2 separate regions of the Homo sapiens genome follow, and region 1 is linked to region 2. A link means that fine-mapping ties the variant in region 2 to the expression of a gene that starts in the linked region. Tissue or cell type: neutrophils. Region 2 holds a variant in brackets; the other region holds the start of a gene. All regions are shown on one strand. Distances are between the middles of the regions.

What was found. PIP is the estimated chance that this variant, and not a neighbour inherited with it, causes the effect.
Region 1: it holds the start of TP53I3, and the variant in region 2 is fine-mapped to the expression of TP53I3 in neutrophils (BLUEPRINT, PIP 0.95).

What each region holds. Positions count from the first base shown.
Region 1 is chr2:24,081,673-24,089,765 of GRCh38, reverse strand. TP53I3 (tumor protein p53 inducible protein 3) reads left to right here and starts at 4,932. Exons shown (of 5, transcript NM_004881.5): 1 at 4,932-5,577; 2 at 6,614-6,881. The coding sequence starts at 5,440. It also overlaps a transcript of FAM228B not described here. RefSeq lists enhancers at 4,147-4,647, 5,395-5,444, 5,595-5,694, 6,290-7,220 and a silencer at 5,205-5,384.
Region 2 is chr2:23,988,142-23,996,246 of GRCh38, reverse strand. All of the region lies in intron 6 of UBXN2A (UBX domain protein 2A), which reads right to left. Among named protein-coding and RNA genes, the nearest start is that of MFSD2B, 18 kb to the left of the region's middle. The variant T/C (reference allele first, on the strand shown) is at 3,412.

The sequences.
Region 1 (8,093 bases), 94 kb before region 2:
AAAAATAAACTATCCCCAAATCTTAACAGCTTACAACAACAACAGCTTACAAAAACAAATGTTTATTTCTTCCTCGGTTGTGACTCTGCTAGGCTGGTCCCAAGACAATAGGTTGGATTCAGGGCTACCCTGAGTATTTCTCACTCAGGGACAAGCTGAAATAGAGGCTATCTGTGGGTGGCAGGAAGGTAAGGGGACTGATGGAAACTGACCATGCCTTTCTCACTCATCATTGACCAAAGTAAGAGACAGGGCCAAACCCAACATCAACAGAATGAGGCGAAAATACTCTACCCATTGGGTAGAATGGAGTAATTTTGCTAAAAAAATCTTCCTTTTTTTTTCTAGATTTTACTACTTGTTGCTGTAGAATTTCACATAATTTAATTTATTTTTGTTTTAATCACTCCTATATCTGTGGTTGTATCTCCTTTCTCATTCCCAGTCTTTCAGACCTTGGCTATTTCTTGTTTCCCAGCTGTAACTCACAATACATTTCATTCATGTTACTGGTTTTTATAAAGAACAAGCTGGGACTACAGGCAACCACCACCACACCCAGCTAATTTTTGCATTTTTAGTAGAGATGGGGTTTCATCATGCTGGCCAGGCTGGCCTTGAACTCCTGACCTCAAGTGATCCACCCCTCTCAGCCTCCCAAAGTGCTGGGATTATAGGTATGAGCCACAGCACCCAGCCCATTTCTCAACTTTCATAATTGGATACATTTCTACTAAATATAATCTATTTCCCCATATCTGGGAAACCACACTGTTTCTACACTCACACAGAACACTTCGTTTCTGACACTAGATATGCAGGTTTTATTCCCACATCAATCAATTCTCTGACATAGGCTGGGTGTTCCACAATTCAATTCTGACACTCTCTACCTGGAGTTAGTGTCAGATCCCACAGATTAAGGGCTCAGTCCCGCAAGGTTGCCCCCATTAAAGATGCCAACTGCAAATCCAAGCCTCCTACACTTCTGACCAACTGGCTGTATAAATCAGGGATTCTCATGACTCCCTCCTTGGATTTGATAATTTGCTAGAATCCTTCATAAAACTCAGGGAAACACTTACGTTTACTAGTTTATGATAAAGAATATTATAGGCCGGGCGCGGTGGCTCACGCCTGTAATCGCAACACTTTGGGAGGCCGAAGCAGGTGGATCTCTTGAGCCCAAAAGTTCAAGACCAGCCTGGCCAACATGGCGAAACCCTGTCTCTACTAAATATGCAAAAATTAGCCGGGCTTGGTGGTGCATGCCTGTAATCCCAGCTACTTGGGAGGCTGAGGCAGGAGAATCACGTAAACCCAGGAGACAGAGATTGCAGTGAGCCGAGATCACCCCACTGCATTCCAGCCTAGGCGACAGAGCCAGACTCTGCCTCAAAAAAAGATATATATATATAATAAAGGGATGAACAGCCAGGTGAAGAGGTATGTAGAATGAGGTCCAGAAGGATCCCAAGTGCAGGAGTCTCTGTCCCCATGGAGTTGGGGTACACCACACCATCTTCCCATGGTGGATGTGTTCACCAGCTGGGAAGCTCACCACATTTCTTTGTTCAAGAGTTTTTAGGGCCAGGCGCAGTGGCTCACACCTCTAATCCCAGCACTTTTGGAGGCCTAGGCAAATGGATAACCTGAGGTAAGGAGTTCAAGACCAGCCTGGCCAACATGGAGAAATCCCATTTCTACTAAAACCACAAAAATGGGCCGGACCCAGTGGCTCACGCCTGTAATCCCAGCACTTTGGAAGGCCGAGGCAGGTGGATTGCCTAAGCTCAGGAGTTTGCGACCAGCCTGGACTGTTGCAAAACCCTGGGCTGGTGAAACCCTGTCTCTACTAAAATACAAAAAATTAGCTGGGCGTGGCAGCGTGCATCTATAGTCCCAGCTACTTGAGAGGATTGCAGGGAGCCGAGATCGCCTGGGTGACAGAGTGAGACTCTGTCTCAAAAAAAAAAAAAAAAAAAAAATTACCCTGGTGTGGTGGCTCACACCTGTAGTCCCAGCTACTCGGGAGGCTGAGGCAGGAGAATCGCTTGAACCTAGGAGGTGGAGGTTGCAGTGAACTGAGGTCAGGCCACTGCACTCCAGCCTGGGCAACAGAGTGAGACTCAGTTTCAACAACAACAACAAAAAAGAATTCTTATAGCGTGTAATCTCCAGTCCCTGCTTCCCCTTCCCAGGGTCTTTCTGGTGACCAGCTCATCCTGAAGCTATCTAGGGCCCCCACCCTAAGTCATATTAGCATAAACTCGAGTGTGCTTATAAGGGTTTGTTATTAATATAAAAAGTCACTTCTATCACATACGAAATTCCAAGGGTTTTAGGAGCTCTGCAGGAGAACAAAATATAATAAAAGATACTTATTGGCCAGGCAGAGTGGCTCATGCCTATAATTCCAGTACTTTACAGGCTGAGGTGGGAGAATTGCTTGAGTCCAGGAGTTCATGATCAGCCTGGGCAACGTAGCAAGACCGTATATCTAGTTAAAAACAAAAGAAAGAAAGAGATGTTTATTCAGCAAATAACAAAGGTTTTAGGAGTGCTATTGTAGGAACCCAGGACAAAGACCAAAAATATATATTTCTTATTACACACTGCAAGATTACATCGACCAAGGGCTCACTAAGATAAAATCTTAGGCACTTTCAACTACTAGTTTTACTGGGATACTTTAGTATACTTAGTGGTTGGTATTATTAGATTTTTTTTAAAGTTACTCCTTGCATCTTAAAAGTTCTTATTTAGCACTTACATTACACATTCCTCATCTATCTTAATCCATTCCATTTTCTTAATCCAATCAGTTTTAGTGTCGATTTTTGCAAAGTTTGTTATTTACAACTATTTCCTTTCCATCTGTCTCTGTTCTAGGATATTTATTTGGTTCAAACCTTTCCTCGATTTTGGACAGATGTGTATCCGGATGATGTGTCTCTGAATCCTTATACATCCTCAGACATGTTTTTTGCCCTAACAAGTGAATTATATCTTAATGGGGTATATTGAGTTACAGTGCTTTTCTTCTAGTCAATAGACGCTAGTCTACTCTCTTCTAGCTTCCAGATTGCAGATAGAAACTTGCTGGGCACAGTGGCTCATACTTGTAATCCTAGCACTTTGGGAGGCTGAGGCAGGAGGATTGCTTGAGTCCAGGAGTTTGAGACCAGCCTGGGCAACATAATGAGACCCCTACACTACAAAAAAGAGAGAGAGAGAAAGAGGGGGTGGGGAAGGAGGGAAGGAAGGAAGGAGGGAGGGAGGGAGAGAAGGAAGCCATTTTTTTTAACCAATTGTGAGTAACTTATTCTTTCCACACTTGTTAGAACCTGAAATTTTATAAAATATAGGCATGCATTTTTGTTCTTATGAATCCATCCTTTAGTGAATGTTTTCAATCCGTATAATCTGGTAGAATTTAGGAAAACTGTATTCTTTTATTTGGTTAACTATTGAATCTTCTTCATCCATTCCTCTTCCTCCTTCTAAAATTCCTTTTTTTTTTTTTTTTTTGAGACGGAGTCTCACTCTGTCGTCCAGGCTGGAGTGCAGTGGTGCGATCTCGGCTCACTGCAAGCTCCCCCTCCCGGGTTCACGCCATTCTCCTGCCTCAGCCTCCCGAATAGCTGGGACTACAGGCGCCCGCCACCACGCCCGGCTAATTTTTTGTATTTTTAGTAGAGACGGGGTTTCACCGTGTTAGCCAGGATGGTCTCGATCTCCTGACCTCGTGATCCGCCCGCCTTGGCCTCCCAAAGTTCTGGGATTACAGGCGTGAGCCACCGCGCCCGGCCTAAAATTCCTGTTATTCTCATAGCAGGGTCTCCTGAATTTTTCCTTAAGTCCCATCATTTTATTATTTCCATCTCTATAGGCTTTTGCTCTGTTGTGTTAAAGAAATAATTATTCAATGATACTTGTTAAAGCACATTAAGGAAGACTTTATTTAGCACCATCGCTACAGGTTTAGGGACCACTGCAATGAGTTCTTGCAGTGGAGGAGACAGGTTGGGATCAACTCTGAATGCATCACGGACAAGTGGGAATGTATAGCCAAGGAGCAGTGTAGGGGGTCAGTGGATGGAAAATTGGTAAGAGGCATCAGGGGTAAGGGGGATTCTATCTAAACTGACCTAACAGGATTCTCACTGAAGACAGGCCAGGGTGGTCGGATATCACTTGGGGGATGGTGGAGGATGAGATATTGAGGGTGATCAGATGTCAAGGATGGGAGGTTCTTACTAAAACAGGAATTTACAAGGAGTGCTACGGATATGTAGTGGGGGGAGGCCAGGGATGCTGCTAAACATCCTACGATGCACAGGACGATCTCCTACAATAACGAACTAGCTAGTCCAAAATGTCAATAGCGCCGAGATTGAGAAACCTTCATGTAGCTTACGGATACAGCTTTTACCCAATCGCCAGCATCCTTCTCCTGGGGCTGAACCTCTCCCCCAGGACTGTCAGGAGGAGGCGAGTGATAAGGATCCCAGGACTGCGTTTTGCCTTCCTTCCCCACCCCCACTCCCAACGGCTCCTTTCTCTTCTCTTAGCAGCACCCAGCTTGCCCACCCATGCTCAAGATGGGCGGGATGCCAGCCTGTTACATAAATGTGCCAAAAGCCTGGCCATGCCTGGAAAATGGACCAATCCGCCCGCCAAGAGGTTGGGTCTCGTTCCCTAGAGAGAAGGAAGTTTCCTCTCCTTGAAGTGAGAGCTAGAATCGCACTTTCTGTCAAGCTGAGAGAAAGACTCTTTTCCAGAGGCTAAAAGGACAAGAAAATCTGATTTGCTTGCTTCTAACTTTGCGTTTTAAAGGGGGAAGGAGGAAAGGAAAGAGGGGGAGGGTGGTTCTGCTTAGCCCCACCCCTCCGGCTACCCCAGGTCCAGCCGTCCATTCCGGTGGAGGCAGAGGCAGTCCTGGGGCTCTGGGGCTCGGGCTTTGTCACCGGGACCCGCAGGAGCCAGAACCACTCGGCGCCGCCTGGTGCATGGGAGGGGAGCCGGGCCAGGAGTAAGTAACTCATACGGGCGCCGGGGACCCGGGTCGGGCTGGGGGCTTCCAACTCAGAGGGAGTGTGATTTGCCTGATCCTCTTCGGCGTTGTCCTGCTCTGCCGCATCCAGCCCTGTACCGCCATCCCACTTCCCGCCGTTCCCATCTGTGTTCCGGGTGGGATCGGTCTGGAGGCGGCCGAGGACTTCCCAGGCAGGAGCTCGGGGCGGAGGCCGGGTCCGCGGCAGACCAGGGCAGCGAGGCGCTGGCCGGCAGGGGGCGCTGCGGTGCCAGCCTGAGGCTGGGCTGCTCCGCGAGGATACAGCGGCCCCTGCCCTGTCCTGTCCTGCCCTGCCCTGTCCTGTCCTGCCCTGCCCTGCCCTGTCCTGTCCTGCCCTGCCCTGCCCTGTGTCCTCAGACAATATGTTAGCCGTGCACTTTGACAAGCCGGGAGGACCGGAAAACCTCTACGTGAAGGAGGTGGCCAAGCCGAGCCCGGGGGAGGGTGAAGTCCTCCTGAAGGTGGCGGCCAGCGCCCTGAACCGGGCGGACTTAATGCAGGTACCCAGGGCTCAGCCGCGCCGGGGCGGGCGGGACTCCAGAGCCTCCCTCTCAACAGCACTCAGTGGACATTGACCAGACGTGAAGGCGTGCACCGCTCCACACCCAGCAGGCAGCTGCGCTGGGGCTTCCCAGACCTAAACCCAGGGCGCCCTCTTTGTTCATGCAAAACAAGGGGGAGTACTTGTAAAGCAGAATCCACCCCGAGCTAATCCATAGCCACTCAGGCCTCCAGATGAGGGCGGAACTAACATTGTTGTGGGGTGTGGGCACACTTACTCCCCAGGCTACCCTGTTCGCCATCTTAATTCTACAGATAAGGAAACTGAAGTTCAGTGAGGTTAAGCAGTACGCCCAAGGCCGTGACACTAGCAATCAGAAGAGCTGGGATTCAAGCTGAGGTCTTTGTGGCTCCAAAGACCTCTTAACTCTTTCCACTCTGAGAGTCCCGGAGCTGACAGCGGGCAGTACTCTTAAGAATTTTCTTCTGTCTGATGCTGATTTACTGACCTGGGCCAGCTGCATTGGTTGGGGTCATTCAGAAATGTGCATCAGAATCCCCCGGGGCACAAAAGAAACGTGATGGGGGCCCAGGCACGTGTACTTTGAAATACTCCTCAGGTGGTTCTGCCACACACTCCTGGTTAAGTCCCTCTGCTCTACAGCTTCTGAGGACTGGGGTGAGTGAGCACAGAGCCTAGCGCTTGATGCATGGGAACCATCGTCAAGGTTCCTAATCCCACTACTATTATTTCCCGTCTGGGACTCAGTTTCTCCATCTGTAAAGCAAGGGGTTCAGATGAGGTAAATAGCTAAGGACTCTACCAGTTATAACATCCACTGATCATGTGACCTCCAGTTTATTTGCATAAAACTAATGGCCTCTCCTTTTTCTTCTCCTTACTTACAAAAACCTGACTTCATTCTGAAATTTATTTTTGAAAAAAAAAAGAGGGGATCTTGGAAGGGGGGCCAGGGGTAGTGACATACAGATTTCTGATCATGCTCACCACTTAGTGCACTTCTTTCTCTGCAGAGACAAGGCCAGTATGACCCACCTCCAGGAGCCAGCAACATTTTGGGACTTGAGGCATCTGGACATGTGGCAGAGCTGGGGCCTGGCTGCCAGGGACACTGGAAGATCGGGGACACAGCCATGGCTCTGCTCCCCGGTGGGGGCCAGGCTCAGTACGTCACTGTCCCCGAAGGGCTCCTCATGCCTATCCCAGAGGGATTGACCCTGACCCAGGCTGCAGCCATCCCAGAGGCCTGGCTCACCGCCTTCCAGCTGTTACATCTTGTGGGTGAGGAGGCCTCCATGCTCACTCCACACAATGTGGCTCAACACCTTCATAAATCAGCCAACTTGAATCCCAGCAATCCCCCAGGGCACTCCCAGGCCTTCCTGTATCACCTGTATTGTCAGGTCCTCAAACCATGTTAGAAGGGTTTAATGTTGAGGCTGAGAATCATGGTTAGCAGATAGAGGGTCTGGATAACACTAGATAGGAGGCCTATGTACATGTTAACACCGGACGCCCAGCAGAAGTCCCAGCTTCTTAGAATCATACTGAGCTTCTCTCTGGGGTCCCAGTGCAACAGAAGGGACCAATTGACTCATTTATTCCTCCTCAATCCCACAGAGGCCAGTCAAGAACTCACATAAGGGAATCTAAGAAGACTTGGTCCTTGCCTTTAGACAGTGCAGTGTAACTGAGAAGGCAACATATGCATAAGATCAGATGACCATAGAGTTTAGAAGGATAGCCCTGTCTATGATAGAAGCTGGAGATGAGTAAAGATGGTGTGGACAAGGGTAGTCAGAAGGCTTTTTGGAAGGCTTTGAAGGGTGGGTAGACTTGTGAAGGACATAAGGCATGCCAAGGTGGCCTAAGAAAGAGTATCAGCCAGGCAAGGTGGCTCACACCTATAATCGTAGCACTTTGGAAGACAGATCACGAGCCCAGGAGTTCAAGATCAGCCTGGGCAACATGGCGAAACCCTGTTTCTACAAAAAATACAAAAATTAACCAGGCATGATGGTGCATGCCTGTTGTCTCAGTTACTCAGGAGGCTGAGTTGGGAGGATCACCTGAGCCCAGGAAGGTCAAGGCTGCAGTGAGCCATGATCATGCCACTGCACTCCAGCCTGGGCAGTAGAGTGAGACTCTGTCTCAAAGAAAAAGAAAGAGTAGGCTGGGCGTGGTGGCTCACGCCTGTAATCCCAGCACTTTGGGCGGCTGAGGTGGGTGGATCATGAGGTCAGGAGATCGAGACCATCCTGGCTAACACGGTGAAACTTCATCTCTACTAAAAATACAAAAAATTAGCTGGGCGTGGTGGTGGGCACCTGTAGTCCCAGCTACTCAGGAAGCTGAGGCAAGAGAATGGCATGAACGCAGGGGGGGTGGGGCAGAGCTTGCAGTGAGCCAAGATTGCGCCACTGCACTCCAGCCTGGGTGACAGAGTGAGACTCCGTCTCAAAAAAAAAAAAAAAACAGTATCAAGGTGAGACC
Region 2 (8,105 bases):
AAAATATAAAAAATTAGCCAAGCATGGTGGCACGCGCCTGTAGTCCCAGCTACTCGGGAGGCTGAGGCAGGAGAATCACTTGAACCCAGGAAACAGAGGTTGCAGTGAGCCGAGATCATGCCACTGCACTCCAGCCTTGGCGACAGAGCAAGACTCTGACTCAAAAAAAAAAAAAAAAAAATTAGCCAGGCGTGGTGACGCACACCTGTAATCCCAGCTACTTGGAAGGCTGAGGCAGGAGAATTGCTCGAACCTGGGAGGTGGTGCAGGTTGCAGTGAGCCGAGATTGAGCCACTGCACTCCAAATTGGGTGACAGAACAAGAATTCATCTCAAAAAAACAAATAAATAAAAAATAAAAAGACAATAAGAGGATTTTGTTTTGATCATTGATGAAATGGCTTTTATTGAAGTAGTGCTCCTAAAAATATTGCTATAAAAGCTGGACAATATACAGACTTAAAATGCTTTGACGTAACTATTTTTCAACTTTACAATGGGTTCATCAGGGTATTAAATGCATTTTCTTTTTTTTTTCTTTTCTTTTTTTTTTTTGAGACAGAGTCTTGCTCTGTCGCCCAGGCTGGAGTGCAGTGGCGTGATCTTGGCTCACTGCAAGCTCCGCCCCCTGGGTTCACACCATTCTCCTGCCTCAGCCTCCCGAGTAGCTGGGACTACAGACGCCCGCTACCACGCCTGGCTAATTTTTTTTGTATTTTTAGTAGATCCGGGGTTTCACCATGTTAGCCAGGATGGTCTCGATCTCCTGACCTCGTGATCCGCCCGCCTCAGCCTCCCAAAGTGCTGGGTAAATGCATTTTCAACGTGGATGGGCTTATTGGGACATTACATCATAAGTCAAGGAGCGTCTAAACATAAAAGCGCTATGTGAAAGCACTGAAGACCAACCAATGTAAATCATCTGAGAGCCCTGTAGGAAGGAAATGCACAAGGTGAGCTCCACATTTACACTGGTTTTTTCACTGAGGGCACTTTCCAATTTGTAGCAGTGAATTAGAGGGAAAAAAAAAAGCCATTTCACTACACCAAGGAGAGACAAGAAGCTGGGATTTATAAGCCAAAATCCTGAAACAGAGGGACCCATAAAGAAACGTGACCAGAAAACCGTAACAAATTCTTAAGTTATTGGCTAACTCCTCAGCTATTAGTAGAATGAGAATTCAAAGAACCCAACAGAAAACAGCGACTGAGGAGAGATTCTAGCAGCTCCAAAATGCTGGGCACACAGACTCTAGAGTTTAAGCTCTGCCAATGTGGAGGAGTCTTGGTAAACACCCAGGTTTTCACCACTTCTAAGGGTCAGACCCTAAGGTTCAAGTCCATGCTCTAAAAGCAAAACAGATAACCAACCAGCCCCAGTAAAGTCTACAGTCAATCCAACTAACTCTTAATAAAATCAACATAATCCATTAGGAATCTGTCTGATAGAAGCATAGGTATCTTTGGAGGAAGATGATGTCATCTGAAACGTCTACAATGTTTCCATAAACAAGGTCTAATGACCAGATGAATTATAAGGTATGCTAAAATCCAGAAGAAGCAACAGATAAAATAAAAAGATGAGGAATTTCACCAGACACCTGAAAAATAACAGACTCAAATGAAAAGTCTACAAGTGACAGTAGAATTGAAAGTAAGAATTCCAACACATGTATTTAACAGACCAGACCAATACAACAGATTACTGAACTCGAAGACAGGTCAAATAGAAAATATGCAGACTGAATCAGAAGGAAAAAGAAGAAAAAAATTAGAAAAGAATATAAGATACACTGAAAACATCTAACATACATGTAAATAAAGCCACAAATGCCAAAGACAAAAGAGAATAAAATACGAGAACATTTCCATCAATACTGGCCAAGAAACTCCCCAAACTGACAAAAAACCTTAACTATGGATCCAAGAAACTCAGCAAATTCTAAGCAATATAATGCAAAGATAACTAACACCTAGGCACATCATATTCAAGCTATTAAAATCTAAGAACAAAGAGAAAAATTTTAAACTGAGAGGAAAAAAGACTTAATATCTTTCAAAAGAGCAAGAAAAAGGCTGACAGCTGATTTTTGAGTAGGAGAGTGGAAGCTGGAAGACAACATATGGGCATTCTTAAGAGCTGATGTGCTAGAAAAACCTGACAGTTCTAGCCTAGTGAAAATGGTCTTTAAAAATGAAGATGTGTTCAAATCAAAGCTAAGAGAATTCATCATTAGTAGATAAGCAATTAAAGAGATACTAAAGGCAGGGCTCGGTGACTCACGCCTGTAATCCCAGCACTTTGGGAAGCCGAGGCGGACCACAAGGTCAGGAGTTGGAGACCAGCCTGGCCAACATGGTGAAACCCTGTCTCTACCAAAAAAATACAAAAATTAGCTGGGTGTGGTAGCGCATGCCTGTAATGCCAGCTACTTGGGAAGCTGAGACAGGAGAATTGCTTGAACCAGGGAGGCAGAGGTCGCAGTGTGCTGAGATCACTCCGCTGCGCTCCAACCAGGTGACAGAGCAAGACTCTGTCTTGAAAAAAAAAAAAAATTAAAAAATTAAAAAAATTTAAGAGATACTAAGCATAATTGTTCAGGCTAAAACATCAAACTGGGTAAAAAACAGAAAAAGTAAAATGATATATAAGTGAATATTGTTTACAAGTAATAGCATTTTGAGGGTTGTTAAAATGTTCGTAGAAGTAACATATTTGTTGACAAAAATAGCAAAAAGGAAGAGAGTAACAGAGTGAAATTGTTGGCCAGGGGCAGTGGCTCAAGCCTATAATCCCAGCAGGTGAGACCCTGTCTCTACCAAAATATATTATATATTTAAAACAGAAAAGAAAAAGCCTGATTAATCATTACTAAATAAATGCTGTTGGCCAAAAATTTTTAAACGCTTCAGTCATTTAGGGGGAAAAAAAGCTACGTGTTTCATTGTTATTCACCTAGATAAACAAGTCAAGATTAAAATTTATTTCCCTGAAGATAAACAAATAAGCTTGGGCCAGAATAACAAATCCCCATTCCCATTTCTACATCTTTAGTTTGCTCTCCTCTTCATTTGGAAGGAATTTAGGTCACAAAAGAACATTCCAGGACACAATTTCAAACTTGTGCTTCTTCTATTATTATGATAATCAGTTGTGTGATTCCAGCTGTCTAGAATGGTTTTGACAGAAATAAAAGTGAAATGCCTTCAAGAGAGCCAAACACATAGAAAGCACCAGGTAGATGGTAGCTAAAGAAATCCACAAAACAGAAACCTCCTTGCAGAGTAAAACAGGAGGAAAAAACCCCACAAAACCAGAAACTAATACTGTTAGCCTAGATTTAAAAACAAAACTCAACTATTTACAAGAGATAGTTTTAAATACACACACAGATAAATATATACAGATACG[T/C]TGAAATTAAAAGTAAGTAGAAAAATATACCAGGCAAATACTAATTAGAAGGAAGCTGTTATGACCATATTAATATCAGGCAGAGTAGATTTAACACAAAAAGCATTACCAAGGATTGAGAGAGACATGTGACAGTGCTAAAAAGGTTGACAGGGTTCAAGATATGCTACCCTAAAATATGGCACCTTGGCATTTGAGGAAACAGCAGAAACAGGTAGATCAGTCTCATTCTCCCCTTGCCCTTCTCCCCTCAAAGCAGACCAAAAAAGAAATTATCTGTCCTTCCTCTGAAGTAGGTCATAAAACCTTCCTTTCCGAGGTATTGTTCGTATACCCAGAGGAAAGGAACAACCTTATCCTTGAAGATGCAGAGATGCCACGAAGAATCTGAACGAACAGGCTAAGCTAAGTTCCCCTTAATTTATTACCATTAGATCATACCCCTTTTGCCCTCCAATCATACTTCTCCACAAACTATCCACTTCCTCATCAAACTTAGGCCAGGAGTTCAAGACCAGCCTGGCCAACATGGCGAAACCCTGTCTCTACTAAAAATACCAAAATTAGGCTGGGCGCGGTGGCTCATGCCTGTAATCCCAGCACTTTGGGAGGCCGAGGCAGGAGGATCATGAGGTCAGGAGATCAAGACCAGCCTGGCCAACATGGTGAAACCCCATCTCTACTAAAAATACAAAAATTAGCTGGGCATGGTGGCACACACCTGTAGTCCCAGCTACTCGGGAGGCTGAGGCAGGAGAATCGCATGAACCAGGGAGGCGGAGGTTGCAGTGAGCTGAGATTGCGCCACTGCATTCCAGCCTGGCGACAGAGCAAGACTCCATCTCAAAAAACAAAACAAAACAAAAAACCCCAAAAATTAGCCAGGCGTGGTGGCAGGTGCCTATAATCCCAGCTACTTGGGAGGCTGAGGGACGAGAATTGCTTGAACCCAGGAGGCAGAGGTTTCAATGAGCCAAGATCATGCCACTGCACTCCAGCCTAGGCAACAGAGTTGAGACTGTCTCAAAAAAACAAAACAAAACAAACAAACAAAAAACAAAAAAGGCCGGGCACTGTGGCTCACGCCTGTAATCCCAGCACTTTGGGAGGCCAAGGTGAGCGGACCACCTGAGATCAGCAGTTCGAGACCAGACTGGCCAACATGGCAAACCCTTTCTCTACTAAAAATACAAAAAAAATTAGCCAGGTGTGGTGATAGGCGCCTGTGATCCCAGTTACTCAGGAGTCTGGGGCAGGGAGAATTGCTTGAACCTGGGAGGCAGAAGTTGCAGTGAGCCGAGATCACACCACTGCACTCCAGCCTAGGCAACAGAGAGAGACTCCATCTCAAAAACAAAACAAAACAAAAAAGACAGAAAAAAATATAATATATATATATGTATATGTGTGTGTGTGTGTGTGTGTGTGTATAAAATAAAATATAAAATCACATGCATTTCTTTTGTTAATCTGTCTTTTGTTAAAGGGGTCTCAGCCATGAATCTAGGCAATGGGCGAAGAAAATCTTTTCTCCCCAACAAAGTCAATTAATCAGAAAAACACAATTTCATCTCTGCTGGACCCAATTATATAACTTTAAAATATATAAAGCAAACATTGACAGAAGTAAATAAGAAATAGACAAATCCATAATCATAGTTGGAGATTTTAGCACAACTTTCTTGGTAACTAATAAAATAAGCAGAAAAAACGGAAGAAAAACACAATTTTTTAATGATTCAGTCCAAAAGCCACCAAGCCATTAGTAGGACAGAACATGGGAGGCATCTATTTCAGAAATGCTGGGAGTTGTGGTGGCCCATATAAGAGCTGTCTAGTGTAGGATGTCAGAGGCCAAGTGGGGTGAGGAAAAATATCCAAGCTGGTGGGTAGGAGAAGAGTAGTCATGGCTTAGTAGCTTTTAAGGACAGTTTTACTTTTTTAAACCTGACATGAATGGAATCATAGTGTATGTGTTCTATAGCTTTATCTCTACATTATGTTTTTGGGACTCATCCATGTTTATGTGTGCAGCCATAGCAAATACTTTTTTTTTTTTTTTGAGATGGAGTCTCACTCTGTCACCCAGGCTGGAGTGCAGTGGTGTGATTTCAGCTCACTGCAACCTCCACCTCCTGGGTTCAAGCCATTCTCCTGCTTCAGCCTCCCAAGTAGCTGGGATTACAGGAGTGGGCCACCACACTCAGCTAATTTTTGTATTTTTTGTGGAGATGGGGTTTCACCATGTTGGCCAGGTTGGTCTTGAACTTCCGACCTCAAGTGATCCGCCCCCCCGCCCCCCCGGCCTCCCAAAGTGCTGGGATTTCAGGCCTGAGCCACCACGCCCAGCTGCAAATATTTTTTGATTACTGTCTTCCATTATAAAAATAATTATTCAGTCTACCTTTATGGGTAACAGTCCAAGTTTACATGGCTGAATCAGTCAGCTATTGCCCAGTAAAAATCACAACAGAGCAGGTTGTCCCAAGCAGAGTAAAAAAGCATTCATATGGAAGAGCAGTTGACTGCAGTGTGTCAGAACCAGACAGTGGTGAGGAGAGCATCTTAGAGGCAGCCCAGAATGTCAGTCTACCAAGCAGAGGAGGTCACTGGCATAGAGTCCTCAAGTCAAGCAGTGTGAGAGGGCATTCCAGTGAAGGGGTGCCCTGGGGTGATGATGTGTCAGAGAGCCTAGCAGGAAGAGGAGGGAATCCATATTGGAATTCAACAAGGAGAGTCAAAGCCCAAGCAGTGTGAGGAAGGCTTACATGTGGGGTAGGAGGCAGCAGTGGAAAAAGGACATTGGTCACATATAGGAAAACTGATTAAATAAATGTGTTAATTATAACTGGAGCCAGGCCTTGCACTGTAGAAGTTAGTTACAAATATGGAAAGGAGAAAATTAGAACAATCCTTATATAGATATTTTTTGAGACAAGGTCTGGTTCTATTGCCCAGGCTGGAATGCAGTGGTGCAATCACAGCTTATTGCAGCCTCAACCTCCCCAGGGTACAGGTGATCCTCCTACTTCAGCCTCCCGAGTATCTGAGACCACAGGTGAGTGCCACCACGTCTGGCAACTTTTTGTGTTTTTTGTAGAGATAGAGTTTCACCATGTTGCCCAGACTGGTTTTGAACTGCTAGGCTCCAGTGATCTGCCCGCCTTGGCCTCCCAAAGTGCTGGGATTACAGGTATGAGCCACCACGCCTGGCCCTACCAGACTGAAAGTGGATGTATCTACGTGGATTCACGGTTTTTGATATATAAAAATATAGAAATAAGGCCGGGTGTGGTGGCTCATGCCTGTAATCCTAGCACTTTGGGAGGCCGAGGCAGGTGGATCGCTTGAGTCCAGGAGTTTGAGACCAGCCTAGGCAACAGGGTGAAACCCCCTCTCTATTAAAAGTATAAAAACTGAGGAGGATCACCTGAGTCTGGGGAGGTGGAGGCTGCAGTGATCTGTAATTATACCACTACACTCCAACCTGGGAGACAGAGTGAGACCCTGTCTCAAAAAAAAAAAAAAAGGAATAAATACAGATATAAACTTAAGTGCATATATATACATACACACACACACACACACATATGTATATGTATAGGTTTTTTGTGTGTGTCTTTGTTGATTTTGGTATCAGGGTAATGCTGGCCTCATAGAATGAGTCTGGAAGTATCCCCTCTTCAATTTTTGAAATAGTTTTCTTTTTGGCGTGTGTGTGTGTGCGTGTGCACACAAACAATTCTTTTCAAACAGAGGGCCTGGAAGCAGTGGTATCCTGATAAGCAATAAGCATATCTAGTACCCAGATCCTGGATTGTCAATACCGCTGTCCACTAAAAAGAACTAGGGATTCCTGGAAAAGCGTAGAATGAACTTGAAAAAAAATTTTGTGCTGAAAACAAGGAAATGTTCAAGAATTATGGGACCATTTCAAAATAACACAGGAATCAGTTTAAAGGACGTCTCACAAACTGTACCTGAGACAATGTGCATATCAAAATAAATAATGATGGTAAGAGTTCATAAACTATTGAATAAAATAGCAAACTATGAGTAGGTATAGACACAAATCAATCAATCAATCAATCTGAGGTCTTGTGAGCAACATAAGTATCCTATTTCAAAGTCCTTCCCACTAAATACAGATTAATTACAAAGGGAAAATGAGTAACTTTACAGTAAAGGACTCTGGTAGACACCACTTTAATCGAGTGTCAAATTTAACATCATCATAATGGGACAAATGTAAATGATGCCACCTGTTGGAATACAATGAGAGGTACAAAGCATTAGTTCTGTCACACCCCTGCCAAAATTAGTGACCTAAATATAATCATGAGGAAGCATCAAACAAAACAAATTGGCTTGTAATATTTTAAAAAGTCAAGGTTATAAAAATCAAAGGAAGACAAGGAACTATTTCAAACTGAGATACGACAACTAAGTGCAATGTGTAATTCTGAATGGCCTTTTGCTATAAAGGAAGGTATTAGATAAAATGGAAAACCCTGAATTAGGGTCTATTAGTCGATACAAGCGTATTAAGGTTAAGTTTCCTGATTTAAATGGCTGTATTGTGGTTATGTGGGAGAAGTTCCTTGTTTACAGATAATCTATACCTAAGTATTTCAAGTGATGGGTCATCAGACTGGCACTAACTCTTGAATGCTTAGGGAGAAAAGTTTTTTCTT